2 separate regions of the Homo sapiens genome follow, and region 2 is linked to region 1. A link means that fine-mapping ties the variant in region 1 to the expression of a gene that starts in the linked region. Tissue or cell type: whole blood. Region 1 holds a variant in brackets; the other region holds the start of a gene. All regions are shown on one strand. Distances are between the middles of the regions.

The links. PIP is the estimated chance that this variant, and not a neighbour inherited with it, causes the effect.
Region 2: it holds the start of ASXL1, and the variant in region 1 is fine-mapped to the expression of ASXL1 in whole blood (TOPMed, PIP 0.91).

The regions. Positions count from the first base shown.
Region 1 is chr20:32,426,302-32,434,403 of GRCh38, forward strand. ASXL1 (ASXL transcriptional regulator 1) reads left to right here. Exons shown (of 13, transcript NM_015338.6): 5 at 1,827-1,947; 6 at 2,024-2,121; 7 at 3,037-3,130; 8 at 3,600-3,752; 9 at 5,020-5,183; 10 at 5,282-5,378; 11 at 6,579-6,684; 12 at 6,983-7,616. Among named protein-coding and RNA genes, the nearest start is that of ASXL1, 72 kb to the left of the region's middle. The variant C/T (reference allele first, on the strand shown) is at 4,776.
Region 2 is chr20:32,355,169-32,363,270 of GRCh38, forward strand. It overlaps ASXL1 (ASXL transcriptional regulator 1), which reads left to right and starts at 3,163. Exons shown (of 13, transcript NM_015338.6): 1 at 3,163-3,664. The coding sequence starts at 3,608. RefSeq lists silencers at 395-464, 3,413-3,462, 3,703-3,862.

The sequences.
Region 1 (8,102 bases):
TCTCATACTCTTGTCAGAACTGGAGATTTGGGGTAACTTTGCCAGTGTAATAGACTTTCTTAATTCATTAAGGAGTATTTTATCTTAGTTTGCCCATGAGAGAAGAGAGATTAAATTTGTTTTATTATACCAAGAACATGGCAGTCAATAAGCATAACTAAAAATATTATTTAGCTTTTGATTCTGAAGACCATGTATGGCCAGTAAGGAAAAGAGGTAAAGATGTAGAAAACTGTTTTCTTTTTTTTCTTTCTTTTTTTTTTTTTTTTTTTTTTTTGAGATGGAGTCTTGCTCTGTCGCCAGGCTGGAGTGCAGTGGCGTAATCTCAGCTCACTGCATCCTCCACCTCCTGGGTTCAAGTGATTCCCCTGCCTTAGCCTCCCGAGTAGCTGGTACTACAGGCGCGTGCCACCACACCTGGCTAATTTTTTGTATTTTAGTAGAAACAGGGTTTCACCGTGTTGGCCAGGATGGTCTCAATCTCCTGACCTCGTGATCCACCTGCCTCAGCCTCCCAAAGTGCTGGGATTACAGGTGTGAGTGAGCCACTGCACCTGGCCTCTTTTTTATTAATTTAAGATACATGATTTTGGCTAAAACTAATGAAAATAAATTGATGAAACTTCAATGTAGTGGATCAAGAGACTCATGAAATTGATGAGTTAGATTGTTGTGGGCACCTGTTTTAAATTTATGGTGCCTTTTTAGCAGAATCATGACTTTATCAACTCTTTTTCACATACTTTTATTCAAAGAAGACATTCTCCTCCTCTGCCCCAACTTATCTTCTTCTTGTCTCCAACTGCCAGTATTCTCATCCACACTCTTTGTAGTTTTGAGGTGTGAGATAACTCCCAAGTTCTTCTTGGGAATGGGTAGAGTTTAATTCTGAGTCTACATGTCGTGAGTCTATTGGAAGAAGCTTTTCTTAGGAGGTGAAATTTGGGATGGAGTTCTCCTCTACACTCTAGCCCTGTAGCCACAATCTTTGGTTTAGATCTTTGGCATTTTTTGTTGGACATCTTTCATAGTGTCTACCTCTTCTTCCTGCCTCTAGGCTTCCCGCGGTTGCCAGATGAAATTCCGAAAACTCAAATCATTCCTGTAGTTAATATTCTTCAGTGACTCCGGAACAATCAAATTCTTGATCCCTCCACATGGGTCTTACCATCTGCCCTCGTGCCCTCTCTAGCTTCCTGCATATTGAGTTCCCCACAGCCCTAGTTTCCCTGAGTTTGGAATATTCTTTCACATTTGCTCATCCCACTATCTAGAAACTTCCTACAATCTCTCTACTGCCAACCTGTCTGTCTAGTTGCTAATTTATTTTAAAACCCAGCTTAAGCAACACATCCTTTTGGATGTGTTACTTCCCTGATCGTTATTCACCTCCATGCCGTCTTTCGCTCAACTCATTGAAGTTAGGTGCCCCTCTTCTGGGCTGCCACGGCTCTCCATGTTCACCTATGTACTGTACTTTGTATTGTAATCAGTTTAATTGACCCCCCTACTTATTTGAGCTCCTTGAGAGCAGGGCCTTGATTCCTGCTCCTTAGCACTCCACCCTCCCCAGAACTAACATGGTATAGCTTATAGGAGGCACCCTATAAATGTTTAATGAATGTTTGAATGCAAAAGTGTATCTAACTTTCTTAATGATATATTTATGAAAAGAACTTGCTGAGAAAAAGGTCAGTTAGAAAGGGTTAGGAACTTGTCAGTATTCTAAATCCCTCTTTTTCAAAAGCATACACATTTAGGAATGACTGCCTTGCTTTAAGAATTTGTAGGGTTTTGTTCACCTGAGTTGTACCTTGCTGTCACAGAAGGATGCCCTGCAGTGGTCTCGCCATCCAGCTACAGTGGAGGGAGAGGAGCCAGAGGACACGGCTGATGTGGAGAGCTGTGGGTCTAATGAAGCCAGCACTGTGAGTGGTGAAAACGATGGTAAGGACCCTTTAATGGATGGGTGAGGGAGCCACAGCAGGCACTAGGGACTAACCTTTATTTTCCTCTCTTCCAGTATCTCTTGATGAAACATCTTCGAACGCATCCTGTTCTACAGAATCTCAGAGTCGACCTCTTTCCAATCCCAGGGACAGCTACAGAGCTTCCTCACAGGTAAGGAAGAGGTAGAGCCTAGCCTGGGAGGATGAATGATGACAGGTATAAGGCAAGATCCCTCCTTCTCCTGTAGTGAGCTGTGAACATGTTCAGAGAGTGAAGAATAGAAGTCTGGTCTCCAGCTGTTAGTAGCATTTAACAGGGGGCCGCAGGAAAAGTGAACAGTAGGTTTGAGCAGAGTAAGTTTTTTCTCTTTCTTTACCTTGGCTGAGTGATTTTGTTCATTCTTTTTTTTTTTTTTTTTTTTTTTTTTTGAGATGGAGTCGCGCCTGTCGCTCAGGCTGGAGTGCAGTGGCATGATCTCCGCTTACTGCAACCTCTGCCTCTGGGGTTCAAGCAATTCTCCTGCCTCAGCCTCCCGAGTAGCTGGGATTACAGGCACGTACCACCGTGCCTGGCTAATATTTGTATTTTTAGTAGAGATAGGGTTTTGCCATGTTGGCCAGGCTAGTCTCGAATTCCTGACCTCAAGTGGTCTGTCCACCTCAGCCTCCCAAAGTGCTGGGATTACAGGTGTGAGTCACCATGCCTAGCCTGATTCTGTTCATTCTTGTAATATACACGTGAACATTCAGGGAGAAGTGTGGTTAGTGCAGAGTAGAGAGAACAGGAGATTGGGAGTGAGCAGTTTGAATGATAACCCTGCACTTACTAGCCTTGAGACTTGGGGAAAATTCCTTACCTGTAAAATGGGGATAACAGTACATTTTTGTAGCTTGGAATGATGCTTGGCACAGTGACCAGCACGTAGCTCAGTAACATTAACCAGTGCTCTTGTCAGCATTATTTGACAGATCTGGTTGAAGACGAACTTCATTTTACAAGAGCGTGAGTAGAGATAGTGTCGCCAGGGAATGCTTTTGTGGCTCTGCAGTTGACTTGGGCTCTCTTTTGTTCTCTCTTGGAACGCAGGCGAACAAACAAAAGAAAAAGACTGGGGTGATGCTGCCTCGAGTTGTCCTGACTCCTCTGAAGGTAAACGGGGCCCACGTGGAATCTGCATCAGGTATGTGTAAACTCATGGTTGTGATGCTTTTTCCTCAGGTCCTGGGGACCTGGCCTCCCTCTGTCAGCAGTTTCTGACCTAATAGTGCGATACTAGGAGAGCTGTCGGGCCACAGGCAAGAGCCCTGCCAATGGATGAGGCCTGCCATAGGTTCTAGTGCTGGGCTCTGCTGTGTGCCTTCCTCTTTGTCTCCCAGGGCAGTCGTGAGGATCCAACGGAGGATTTGATTATGCCAGTGCTTTGTAAAAGGTGTAGTGCTATACAAATAAAGATGGCAGTTTGGCACCTGTAAGGTGATATTTTAAAGCCAGACCATGAAGTGGTGGTTTCTCTCAGCCTAAGGCTGGGAGATGGAAGCATCCCAGTATTGCTGGCAGCATCTCAGGGAGAGCTGGGAGAAATGAGCTTGTCTGAGAGCCATGGGCGCGGCTTGGTGATACTTTTGACCAGTGGAATGCTGTGCCTTCAGGGTTCTCGGGCTGCCACGCCGATGGCGAGAGCGGCAGCCCGTCCAGCAGCAGCAGCGGCTCTCTGGCCCTGGGCAGCGCTGCTATTCGTGGCCAGGCCGAGGTCACCCAGGACCCTGCCCCGCTCCTGAGAGGCTTCCGGAAGCCAGCCACAGGTGAGTGGCGTGGCACTTATTTCTCTGCCTGTAAAGGGGGCCCCTGCAGGCCTAGTGAGAAGATGATGTCTTCTATTCCAATTCCTTTACCAGTTTATTTTTACTTCTTGGGTGGCCCTCTATTTTTTGTTTATTTTTACTTTGTAATTTGCTTATTTCATTTGTAGCTCTCTGCTAAACTGTGAGAACTCCTTTCAGGCAGAGATGATGCCATACTGTTTCTCGTATGTCCCTGTAGGCCTAGTCTATGCCTGCCTTGTACTGCATAGTAAGTGTTTGAGTGAGTGAAAACTGCTTCTGAGCTTCTCAGTGAAGAATTCCAACACCCCTTTTCTCTCTTCGGTAGCATGTTGCCACATTTGTTCCCAACATCTGTAGTCTGTATCAGACGCTCCCTTTTTTACAACCTAGTCAGTATGTTGAGTGGAAGCATGTGTTGAATTTTGGGGATGCAAACAAATTCAGTAGTGCTATTATCTATACCTCCCACCCCTCACCCCACCCCACCCCCATTAGGGTTATTTGCAATATTAGTATGCTCTTTGCTATTTCAGGATTTAATTCTTAATGACCCACATGCTGGTTTTTTTTGTAGATGAAACCATTAAGAAGACAAGCTTTTGCTTCTGAGAATTAGAGTAAACCTTTGCCCATGTGAGAACTAGGTTTGCTGTCTTGCTGCTTTTCCAGCTCATCAGCAGTGCTCAATCTAAGGTCTCACAGGTCTCTAGTCCTAGTGAGTTTTTCAGATAAAAGTAACATTTGCTGAGGCTTCTGTGAGAGGTATTAGCATCTCAGTTGGCTTTGAACAGTCCTTAGTACATTTCTGCATGGAGATCATCCCTCTCCAGCCCATTCACAGAAGGCTTCTGCAGATTTTTCTATAGTATACTAACTAGATTTACTTTTAGATAATTCTCATGATTTCTCCAGTTGAGCTTTGTGGAGCCTGTTCTCCAGCTTTGGAGGGAAGCTCAGAACCTGCCCCTTGCCTGATTTTCTGTGGGAAGTGTCCTTTTCAGG[C/T]TGTGACACAGCACGGTACAGAGTTTTGTCTGAGGAGATGCAACCCCAAGTGTTCTCCTGGGTTTGATGGCAATGACAGTAACCTGGAAAGAATATACAGGTTAGGATGGACTGGACAATTGAGCAGATTGTGTGCAGATAACTCCTGGGTAGCTTGGGTGCTGTCACCAAAGTTTTCCCATCAGTTGGCATTTGTTTTTTCTTTTAAAAAGCTGAAATCTATACCTTGCTTCAAAAATCATAGGTCAAATGAAGCGCAACAGAGGGGAAGAAATAGATTTTGAGACACCTGGGTCCATTCTTGTCAACACCAACCTCCGTGCCCTGATCAACTCTCGGACCTTCCATGCCTTACCATCACACTTCCAGCAGCAGCTCCTCTTCCTCCTGCCTGAAGTAGACAGACAGGTGCACATGGGCAGCCTCCCCTTTGCCTCTCTCTGGGTGGGCTTCTGTTCTCTTTTAAGTTTATTTATTAGGATTTTTTTCCCCCTTGATCCTTCTAGGTGGGGACGGATGGCCTGTTGCGTCTCAGCAGCAGTGCACTAAATAACGAGTTTTTTACCCATGCGGCTCAGAGCTGGCGGGAGCGCCTGGCTGATGGTATGTAGACTTGGTCATCTCGGACGGCTTGCGACGCACCTGTCGTGTGGTGTTGCATGTCTCCTGGTATTTAAAACCCAAGCTCGCTCTTCTCAAAGGGTTATTTAGTATAAGACAGGCTTTCCTCATTACTAATAAATGTGGTGGGTATTAATATGCCACACAGCTCTGAAGAAATAACAGGGTGTTTAGGTTTAGACTTTCACTATATTGTATGTATGTACTCATTCATCATCTCCTTTTTATCATTAAAACTATAAACACCTATTCCAGTAATCATGGCATGGTCTGGAAGGGTGGAGGAAAGTACACTGTGGAGTTGAGAAGCTCCACCATGCTCTGTCTTTTTAGGCATTGTCACTTGGAGTGATTGTTAGCTTCTATTAATTTAATTTTGTGGGGAAAGTGTTGAGAGGGCTCTAAGAACACCCCTAGGTTTGATGATTTGCTAGCAGGACTCAGCATATAGTTATATGTACAGGGCTGCGGTTTATTACAGCAGAAGAATACAAAGTAAAATCAGCAGATGGAGAGGCACATGGGGTGGGGTCCAGGGGAAACCATGTGTTGGCTTCCAAGGTCCTCTCTCAGTGGTGTCACACAGGACACATTTAATTCCCCCAGTAACAAGTTATGATAACATGTATGAAATGTCTACTAGGGAAACCTGTTAAAGACTCGGTGCCCAGGGTTTTTATCAAGGGCTGATCATGTAGGAAGCCACTGCTTGGCACATACCCAGCTTCCAGATTCCCAAAAGGAAGGCAGGTGTTCAGCATAAGCCGTATTGTTTGCATAAACAATTTAGGCACAGTGAACAACTCATATCAGTTAGGGTGGTTGGGAACCCTCCTGAAATCTAAGTTCCCAGATGTCAGCCAAGGGCTGTTCTTTTAAGTAGGCCTTTCTAAGAGTAAACAATCAGGCCTACCTACTATGTTAACTTTTTATCTACACAGGAAATATGAATGGTTCTTTTGTTTGTTGTTTTGCTTTTTCGATCAAGGAGTTGCTTGGTCTCACTTTAAGGAAGAGTGAATTTCCCTTATAGTAGATGTGTTAGCTCTGTCCCTATAAGAGCATGATGTGAGAGAGCCTTTAGAAGAGACGTGTTGTTTTAAAACTGGGAGATTCAGCTGTCCATAAGACAGACATTAATATCCCGAATGCACTTACTAGAAGAGGTTTATTTCTCCCTAGGTGAATTTACTCATGAGATGCAAGTCAGGATACGACAGGAAATGGAGAAGGAAAAGAAGGTGGAACAATGGAAAGAAAAGTTCTTTGAAGACTACTATGGACAGAAGTAAGGCAGTTGGAGCTATGAGTCCTGGTCTGGGGTTTTGAGGGGATAGAGGTAGATGGTCTCAAAATAGCATATACTTATGTGTTGGACAAGAATGTGGAGATTGCAGTGACACTTGGGTCATTTATCTTAATGCCATTCATAGTGAAGCTAACAGAAGTTTTTCCATGGTTAGATTGTGCACCACACAGATTTATTTTGTTCTGAGATATCTGTGTTTCTGGGTCCATATTATTCATAGAAATAAGAGACATGTCCACTCTGGCCTGAAACTGATGGCTGTGATTTTGATTTGCAGGCTGGGTTTGACCAAAGAAGAGTCATTGCAGCAGAACGTGGGCCAGGAGGAGGCTGAAATCAAAAGTGGCTTGTGTGTCCCAGGAGAATCAGTGCGTATACAGCGTGGTCCAGCCACCCGACAGCGAGATGGGCATTTTAAGAAACGCTCTCGGCCAGATCTCCGAACCAGAGCCAGAAGGAATCTGTACAAAAAACAGGAGTCAGAACAAGCAGGGGTTGCTAAGGATGCAAAATCTGTGGCCTCAGATGTTCCCCTCTACAAGGATGGGGAGGCTAAGACTGACCCAGCAGGGCTGAGCAGTCCCCATCTGCCAGGCACATCCTCTGCAGCACCCGACCTGGAGGGTCCCGAATTCCCAGTTGAGTCTGTGGCTTCTCGGATCCAGGCTGAGCCAGACAACTTGGCACGTGCCTCTGCATCTCCAGACAGAATTCCTAGCCTGCCTCAGGAAACTGTGGATCAGGAACCCAAGGATCAGAAGAGGAAATCCTTTGAGCAGGCGGCCTCTGCATCCTTTCCCGAAAAGAAGCCCCGGCTTGAAGATCGTCAGTCCTTTCGTAACACAATTGAAAGTGTTCACACCGAAAAGCCACAGCCCACTAAAGAGGAGCCCAAAGTCCCGCCCATCCGGGTAGGAGACTGTTTGATTCCTGGCTGCCCTGGAGCCAGGTTTTCTTTGAGGGTCATGAGATTATAGAGCCCTTAACTCTGGGGCCCTGAAGTTAATTATGTGGGAATGTAGAGCTTTTTATGAGAGGTTTGCTTGAGACAGCCTTCAAGTTTAGTGAGATAGGTTCTTTTCTTCCTCACTTTTTTGTTCACTCTGTTGAAGTTATCTTGAGAGGTCAAAATCCTTTGGGGTTTTAAAATCTTTTTAAGATAGCATTAGATTCTTTGCTATAGTGACTCACACAGTCCCACCAGAAATTAAATTTAGAAGTGTGGCATATAACAGCCCTTGAGCAGAATCTTCTCTGAATGGTGTGTTATGGCGCCATTTTACTATGATGATTTCATTGTTTTAAGGAAATTATTTGATTCTGTATGCCATGACCCTTAAGCTACTAGAATCCTAGTTTTGCTTTACAGTCCCTAGGTCAGATCACCCAGTCAGTTA
Region 2 (8,102 bases), 71 kb before region 1:
CATGCAGAGCCAATGAGAATATATTATCTTGCAGTGCAGTTTATGGGATATATGTGTCCCTTTGGGAATTCCTGGGTGTCTGCTGGTGGCCTGTTAACTTGGTTCTTGAATATGCACTTTGCTTATAACTGTGCAGTTTGAAAAGTGACTCATCCCCAAACTAGGCAGGGTTGAGTGTCTGTCCTGTTTATCTTCCACATGCCACCTGCACTAACTTCTGAAGATAATCTATAATAAAAGCACTGTGATTAAAAAACAGAAAAACACACACCAAAAATGTATAGGTTTGTCTGTTGGTGCTTCTGACAAGAAAATAAACTCATGAATCTCATTAACTTTAAAAAAATCACATCTACTTAAGGTTTAATGACTAAAGCCAACTTTCTAACATATCTGTACCGTTCTCTGAACATACTGTTTTCACACTTAACTACGATGTTGTCACTTGTTTCTGTCTGATTCTGCAAGGGCAGAGACCTTGAAATATTCAAATCTGGATTCCCCCATGGTTTGACCCAGCTGAAGTCAGGCAGTGTTCGCTGAAAGAAATAAAGGTGTTTCCATAATGCCTGTATTAGCTTTCTTTTGGGGCTGTAAGAAGTTACCACAGATTTAGTGTCATAAAACAATATTCATTTCTGTTTCACGCTTCTTGTGGGCCCGACGTCTGGATTCCATGGCTCAGCTGATTCTCTGCTTCCAGTCTCACGAGGCTGAAATCAAGGTGTCTATATTCCTTTCTAGAGAGTTGGGGAGGGGGTATAATCTGTTCCCAAGTTCATTCAGCTTGTCAGAATTCAGCTCTGTGAGGTTGTAGGACTGAAGTCCCCATTTCCTTGCTGGCTCTTGGCAGGACTTCCTCTGAGCTTTTGGAGGCTGCCTGGATTCCCTGGCTTGTGGCCACTTTCAAAGCCAGTAACAGTGGGTTGAATTCCTCTCATACTTTGAATTTAATTCCTCTGCCTCATCTCTCCAAAACATCTCTTTTGCCTCCCTTTTGTGCTTTTAAGGGTTCATGTGATTACACTGGGCTCACCCATATAATACGGAATCATCTAATTTTAAGGGCTTTATTTCCATTGGCAAAATATCTTTTGCCAAAGAATGCTGGCTGGTAATCCCAGCACTTTGGGAGGCCGAGATGGGTGGATCACCTGAGGTCAGGAGTTCAAGACCAGCCTGGCCAACATGGAGAAACCCAGTCACTACTAAAGATACAAAAATTAGCTGGGCATGGTAGCGCATGCCTGTAATCTCAGCTACTTGGGAGGCTGAGGCAGGAGGATCGCATGAACCCAGGAGGCGGAGGTTGCAGTTAGCCAAGATCACGCCACTGCACTCCAGCCTGGGTAACACAGCGAGACTCTGTCTCAAAAAATAAATAAATAAATAAATAAAAAAGCAACATATTCACAGGTTCCAGGGACTAGGACTTGGACAGTTTTGGGCAAGCGGGGAAGACATTATTCTGTCTACCACAGTACCTGTATTAAACATGTAAATTTCAGTTATTCCCTGTAGGTCAGAGGGCAGTAAAGCTACTTCAGAAGACATCGGAAAGAAGCCAAATGACTTGCCAAAGAGTACTGTATCAGCCGTAGATTGAAAAAAAAGAAGTTAAAAATCCTTTGTAAAAAATCAAGGCAAACAGTTTTTTGAGGGACAGTAGTTCCTCCTTTCTCTCAGGGTAAAGCTAGAGAGATTTTTAAGAGGTGTCTTATTCTAACTTGCAGTCTTTTCCCTTTGTAGGATTTTGCTTACCGGACTCACAAGTTTTCTGTGACCAGTATTAGAAGCAGAAAACACTGAACCCCTTGGCGTTAGAGTTTGGGCTACACCATAATGGTCTCCTATCAATACTGGCTCTCGCTACGTGTTAACATTAGGGAGTGGAGAGTGTGTTTCCTCACCCAGGGAAACCGTTTAAATGTGGCCACTGATCCTGCCTTCATAGTTTTTAAGAGCTGGCATCAATCCAACTCCGGACGGACTCTAGAAATGTTTCTGGACAACGACTGAACCTATAGTTACAGAAAACCTATGTGCTGGGCGCTCTGAATTTCATTTCAGGTTCTAAAACTAAGGCTCAGAGAGGCTAAGTATATTGCCTATTGTTTCTCAGCTGGTAATAACAGCTACCATTTATTAAACATTTGCTCTATGCCAGGCGCCATATCATACGGACCTGATAATGTCAAGATCTCCCTTCACATCCTCTTCCAATCTGTCAAGAATTGTATGTTAATTTTAATTCCAATAATGCCATGAAATACAAGACAAATGCAGATCAGAAAACTGAGGCTCAGAGAGGTTGAGTGGACAGCCAGGGAGTGACTCAGCCAAGATTCCAGTCTAGGTCCGCTGGACTCCAGGGCCTGAATTCTCTCCAGGGTACTGCCTCTAAAAACGCCCTCAGGTGCATTCTGGTCAGTATGGCCCCAGAGTCCAAGTTCTTTACACGACCCGTCAACATATCACCAAGTTCCTAAGAACGCTCTAGGCTGCTGGTGCAGGCTCTGCAAATACACAGCGGCCTGAAAGCACAGGAAGAAATGAAGAACCGTCTAAGTCCATCAGCCGTGGAATAACCGTTTTACTGGTATGAGGGTCTTTTTGTCTCATTATTATGTGGCAGTGAGTCATTTAGAGGTGACCAAAAGGGAAAGTCCTGCCTCTCGTCCCCTACGAGAAGTGTAGGTAAGAACCGTTTAGGCGAGGAGAAGCACGAAGTGGGAACTGCGAGTCGAGCTCCCCATCCTCACTCCCCACCCGCACCCGCCAGGAGGTCCTGAAGCAAAAAGCACCGAAGGGGTTAAGGGTGGCCGGGGGAGCCCAGCCACCGCCCCTTCCCAGCATCGCCTCCCAGAATCCCGCAGGCCCCCAGCCAGTTCTCGCACCTCGCGAGACTCCACCCAGCCCCTTCCCCGAACAGCGACCCGTCCCCGTTCCTAGCTGAGGTCGGTGCTAGGCGGAGGACGCGAGAGGGAGAGCGGAAGGGGGCCGCCGGGCACGCCGGGAAGTGTGGTCCACGCGCTTCACGCGGCCATATTCTTCCGGAGCGGGGGAGGCCAGAGAGGCCGTTGGGACTACGACTCCCAGGCGCCCTTTCGGTTTGTTTTTGTTCAAAAAAAAAAAACCCCACACTCCCCCTCCTCACTCTTCACACACACTCACACACACCCACGGCAGACACGCACGCACCCGGGCGCCGAAGGGAAAGCCGCGTCTCGCCCTCCCGCCCCGCCGTCGGTCCTGTCTCAGTCCCTCAGCAGAGCGGGAAAGCGGAGGCCGGAGCCGTGACCTCTGACCCCGTGGTTATGCGGAGCCGCCGCATTCCTTAGCGATCGCGGGGCAGCCGCCGCTGCCGCCGTGGGCGACTGACGCAGCGCGGGCGCGTGGAGCCGCCGCCGCCCCTCCCCCACCGCCGCTCTCGCGCCAGCCGGTCCCCGCGTGCCCGCCCCTTCTCCCCGGCCGCACCCGAGACCTCGCGCGCCGCCGCTGCCACGCGCCCCCCCCACCGCCGCCGCCGCCCCAGCCCCGCGCCACCGCCCCAGCCCGCCCAGCCCGGAGGTCCCGCGTGGAGCTGCCGCCGCCGCCGGGGAGAAGGATGAAGGACAAACAGAAGAAGAAGAAGGAGCGCACGTGGGCCGAGGCCGCGCGCCTGGTGAGGCGGACAGCCGAGGGGGGCTCCGTGGGGCCCGGGGTGGGGGGGGCTCGCCGCGCACCCCCCCACTGGGGGGGGAGGGGCAAGGCCCTGCCCACCGCGGGAGGGGGCGGGGCCATCTTCCTTTAAGAACGGGACAGCCCCGCAAGGCGAGGGGTGGGGAGCGCTCCGCCGGGATGGGATGTGGCGCCTTTTTCCGCTCGCCCTCGCGCCCCCCCCGCCCCGCGCAGCTAAATTCCGGCGGAGGGGCGAGCTGGCAGGCCGGCTCCTCCCACTCTGGGCAGCGGGGTCCCGCGTCCCCTCCCCCACTATTTGGCAGCGTCTGGGGGTCTGGGGCAGCTTCGTTCATTCACCCGGGGGAGTTGGGTTTCCGGGAAGGGTCGGAAGCTCCTCCCTCGCTTCCTGGTGGGTAATGGGGTGGTGCCTTTGACTCCGGGGGTGGAAAAGCGACCCCACATTCAAGGACGCCAATGGCATGTTGAGCTTTCCCAATCTAAACCAGGTGCGTGGAGGGAAGCAAGTGCTTACTCCCAGCTTGAACCCTGAGCAGCGGTTCTCTAACTTTAGTGTCCTGTGGGCGACACCTGGGAGGCGGTTAGGAACGCTACTCCTAGGGCCCTTCGTAAGACCTGCTGAGCCTCAGGGTCTGGGATAGAGCCTGGGAATCTGCGCTTTCACCAGCTTCCCAGGTGATTCAAACGCAGTGGCTCACGGACCCCACTTTGAGAAACGCAGACTGGGCTGTTTGCCTTCAGAAGCTGGACTGGAAATTGGTATTTTGAGGAGAACTGAATCCACTTTGCAAAGAATGTATGTTGGACAAAGACAAAGTATCTCTGTTGGGAGACGTTGTTCACTGAGGATTTAGCAAGGGAGAGCGTAACTTGAGTGTTTGAAGCCGTCTCGTTCAACCGATGGGGGTTGTGAATTTTGTGTTCAGAGCGTCAGAGGACTTGCAGGTGAAATAGCTTCCTTTTGGATTACTCCCACAAAGCTCAGACACTTTGAGACATATTCGGGTAATTATCTGCTGATACCAGTAGTAACAGGTTATACTAAGATGTCAGTTCCTAAGATCTGTCACACAGCGAGGTTGTGGTGCGGATAGCATAAGTGTCTCTTGACACTGTAGTTTATATGTAATGGTTGTAATTCAGTTTTAATGATGAGTGAAGCTCAGACTTAATTTTCTCTCTTATTTTGAAGTGAGTTTTCTGCTTCAAAGGTGTTGTGCAAAAAAAAAAAAAATAGACTGTATTGGGGGGGTTGACACAAACCTGAAGTACACCTTTTTCTTTCTCGAAGTCTGTAAAAGTTACAGATTTATAAAAACTGAAGGAATTTGGGCTACAGAATTTTCATTGGTGCTTGCTATCCTCTTCCCTAGTCATTTGTTGCCCAGGGAACAAAAATAGCAATTGTTTGTATGCTGAAGTTTTGTGCTTCAGTTTATTTTGGCCTGGCATGTGAAGTTTGAAGATTTTGAGGTTCCGAAATATTTTTTTTCTGATTGAGTCAAAATTGGAAGCTTGGGCTAGTTTTCAGGATCTTGTAGAAATTTCAGGATTTCTCTAACGGTTCTGCACCTGGAAACAAATATAGGCCTGATGGGGAGTGGGAGAGAGCTCTCGTTCTCCTCCTCGACAATGAGTTTTGTGTGTTCATTGACATTCTCCTTGGCGTTCCTGTTATGCGGGTGTTTATGACCCTGGGCACCCAAGGAAATTTGCTTGCCAGAGTTTTACTTGTTAGAGGTAGGTGAAAGTACTTTTAAGTCTTGTGTTATTTATGTCTTGACAGAATTATGAAATCTGTTTGTCTCAAAGTTCTGTTGGCTCTTACTAGTTGACTTTAGGAATTTGGGGTCCACTGTTAAGTCTCTTTAGATTCTCGAATTTACCGTGGTCTGAACTTCAACATCGAGGTTGCTATTTCTGTTTTATCATTGACTCAACTTCAAGCCAGGTTATCAGGGTAAGTTATTCCTCTTTTTCTTCTAAGGCTCTTCATTAAAAATAGTAATATGAATAGGAATTACTTTGTTTGTTTGTTTTTCGTTTGTTTGCCACCACACCCGGCTAATTTTTTATTTTTAGTAAAGATGGGGTTTTTCCATGCTGGTCAGGCTGGTCTCGAACTCGTGACCTTAGGTTATCCGCCCACCTTGGCCTCCCAAAGTGCTGGGATTACAGGCGTGAGCCACCGCGCCCAGCCTATGAGTAGGAATTACTTTGTGGTGCTGTTATACATGTGAAAAAGGATTTGCGAGACTTTGGGAGTCTGAGGTGGAATAATCACTTGAGGCTAGGAATTCGAGATGAGCCTGGGCAACATAGACCCGGTCTCTACAACAACAGCAACAAAATGAGCTGGGCATGGTGGTACACACCTGTGGTCCTAGCTACTCAGGAGGCTGAGGATAGCTTAGGCCGAGGAGTTGGAGGCTGCAGTGCCCAATGATTGATTGTACCACTGCACTCCAGCCTGGGTGATAGAGGGAGACCCTGACTCTAAAAAAATAATGAGGCTGGGCGCTGTGGCTCACGCCTGTAATCCCAGCACTTTGGGACGCCGAGGTGGGTGGATCACAGGGTCAGGAGTTCTAGACCAGCTTGGCCAACAAGGTAAAACCCAGTCTCTACTAAAAATACAAAAATTAGCCGGGTGTGGTGGTGCACGCCTGTAATCCCAGCTACTGAGGGGGCTGAGACAGGAGAATCACTTGAACTTGGGAGGTGGAGGTTGCAGAGAGCCAAGGCCATGCCACTGTCCAGCCTGGGTGACAGAGCAAGACTCGTCTCAAAAAAAAAAAAAAAAGAAAAAAAGAAAAAGGACTTGTTGAGAATGTGATATGCAATTTGAGTATCTTGTGTGTGTTTTTTGTTTTAGAATTTTCCATTTCTTTGAATGGGACTGGATGGTAGGTGAGGGGGAACTTTTTAAGAGTCCCAGGCCGGGCACGGTGGCTCACGCCTGTAATCCCAGCTCTTTGGGAGGCCGAGGCAGACGGATCACCTGAGGCCAGAAGTTCGAGACCAGCCTGGCCAACATGGTGAAACCCCGTCTCTACTAAAAATACAAAAATTAGCCAGGCATGGTGATGGTGCATGCCTGTAACCTCAGCTACTCGGGAGGCTGAGGCAGGAGAATCACTTGAACTCGGGAGGTGGAGGTTGCAGTGAACCCAGATCACACCACTGCACTCCAGCGGCGACAGTGAGACTCTGTCTCAAAAACAAAACAAAAGAAAAAACCAGTCCTCTTAATGTTTAAAAAAAGTTGCTGTAACACTGTACTGGAGAATTTGTGAGAGCGTACACTGGACTGAGAGAAACTTGACTAGGAGGGAACGTAGGACAGTTGATTAGAACACCTGAACACTTCTCTTTGGGCAGGTGAATTTGGAGTGCTTGCAATGGCAATTGTATGCACTTCCATGGGAACGCTTTCAGATTGCTCCTGACCCCACTCAGATTGGTGACTAGAGTGTTACTGGGAATCCTTTTAAAAATTGTTTTTGTAGGCTGTGCGCGGTGGCTCACGCCTGTAATCCCAGCACTTTGGGAGGCCGAGGCGGGCGGATCACGAGGTCAGGAGATCGAGACCATCCTGGCTAACACGGTGAAACCCCATCTCTACTAAAAATACAAAAAATTAGCCAGGCGTGGTGGCGAGTGCCTGTAGTCCCAGCTACTCGGGAGGCTGAGGCCGGAGAATGGCGTGAACGCGGGAGGCGGAGCTTGCAGTGAGCCGAGATCGAGCTACTGCACTCCATCCAGCCTGGGCGACAGAGCAAGACTCTGTCTCAAAAACAAACAAACAAAACAACAACAACAAAAAAACCTTTCGTAGAGGAAAGAAGATTCTTAAGAATTTCAGTATAGTGTACCCCAGGAGATTGATTTTTGCAGATGTTAATTATGCTGTTGAAAAATAGTCTTTCTTTCACACATTTTGTAGTATTGTCTTTTCTAGGTGTAAGAAGTAGACCTTATGTGGTTGAGTGGATATAAATCCTCCAACTTGTTATAAACAGTTTGTTTGGGAGAAATAGCCAAGGGGATTTCCCTTTAAATCGAGGACGCTAAATGGATTCTCCCTGGCTTCGAGAAACTCTTTGTTGTATGCTTTATCTTTTACTTTGATTCATGACTGACCAGTTCTTACATCAAACATTTTTTTCCCCTTTGAAGTAAGAGAAGAGATACTTAAAAAAAAAAATGTAGTCTAGAAAGAGACTAGGAATAGAACACTGCTGACTTGTTCTTATACCAAGAGCTGGAGGCATAAACAGTTTTAATAAAAAAGAATACTTTGTATCTTTTGATGTAACTTCCCTTTAGAGATTCTGTTTCCCCTGTCTTAAATTCTCAGGCTATTTCTGATTGCTGTTTAAATAATTGGTAGTTACTATTTGAGTCATGCTTCTTAAAAAAAA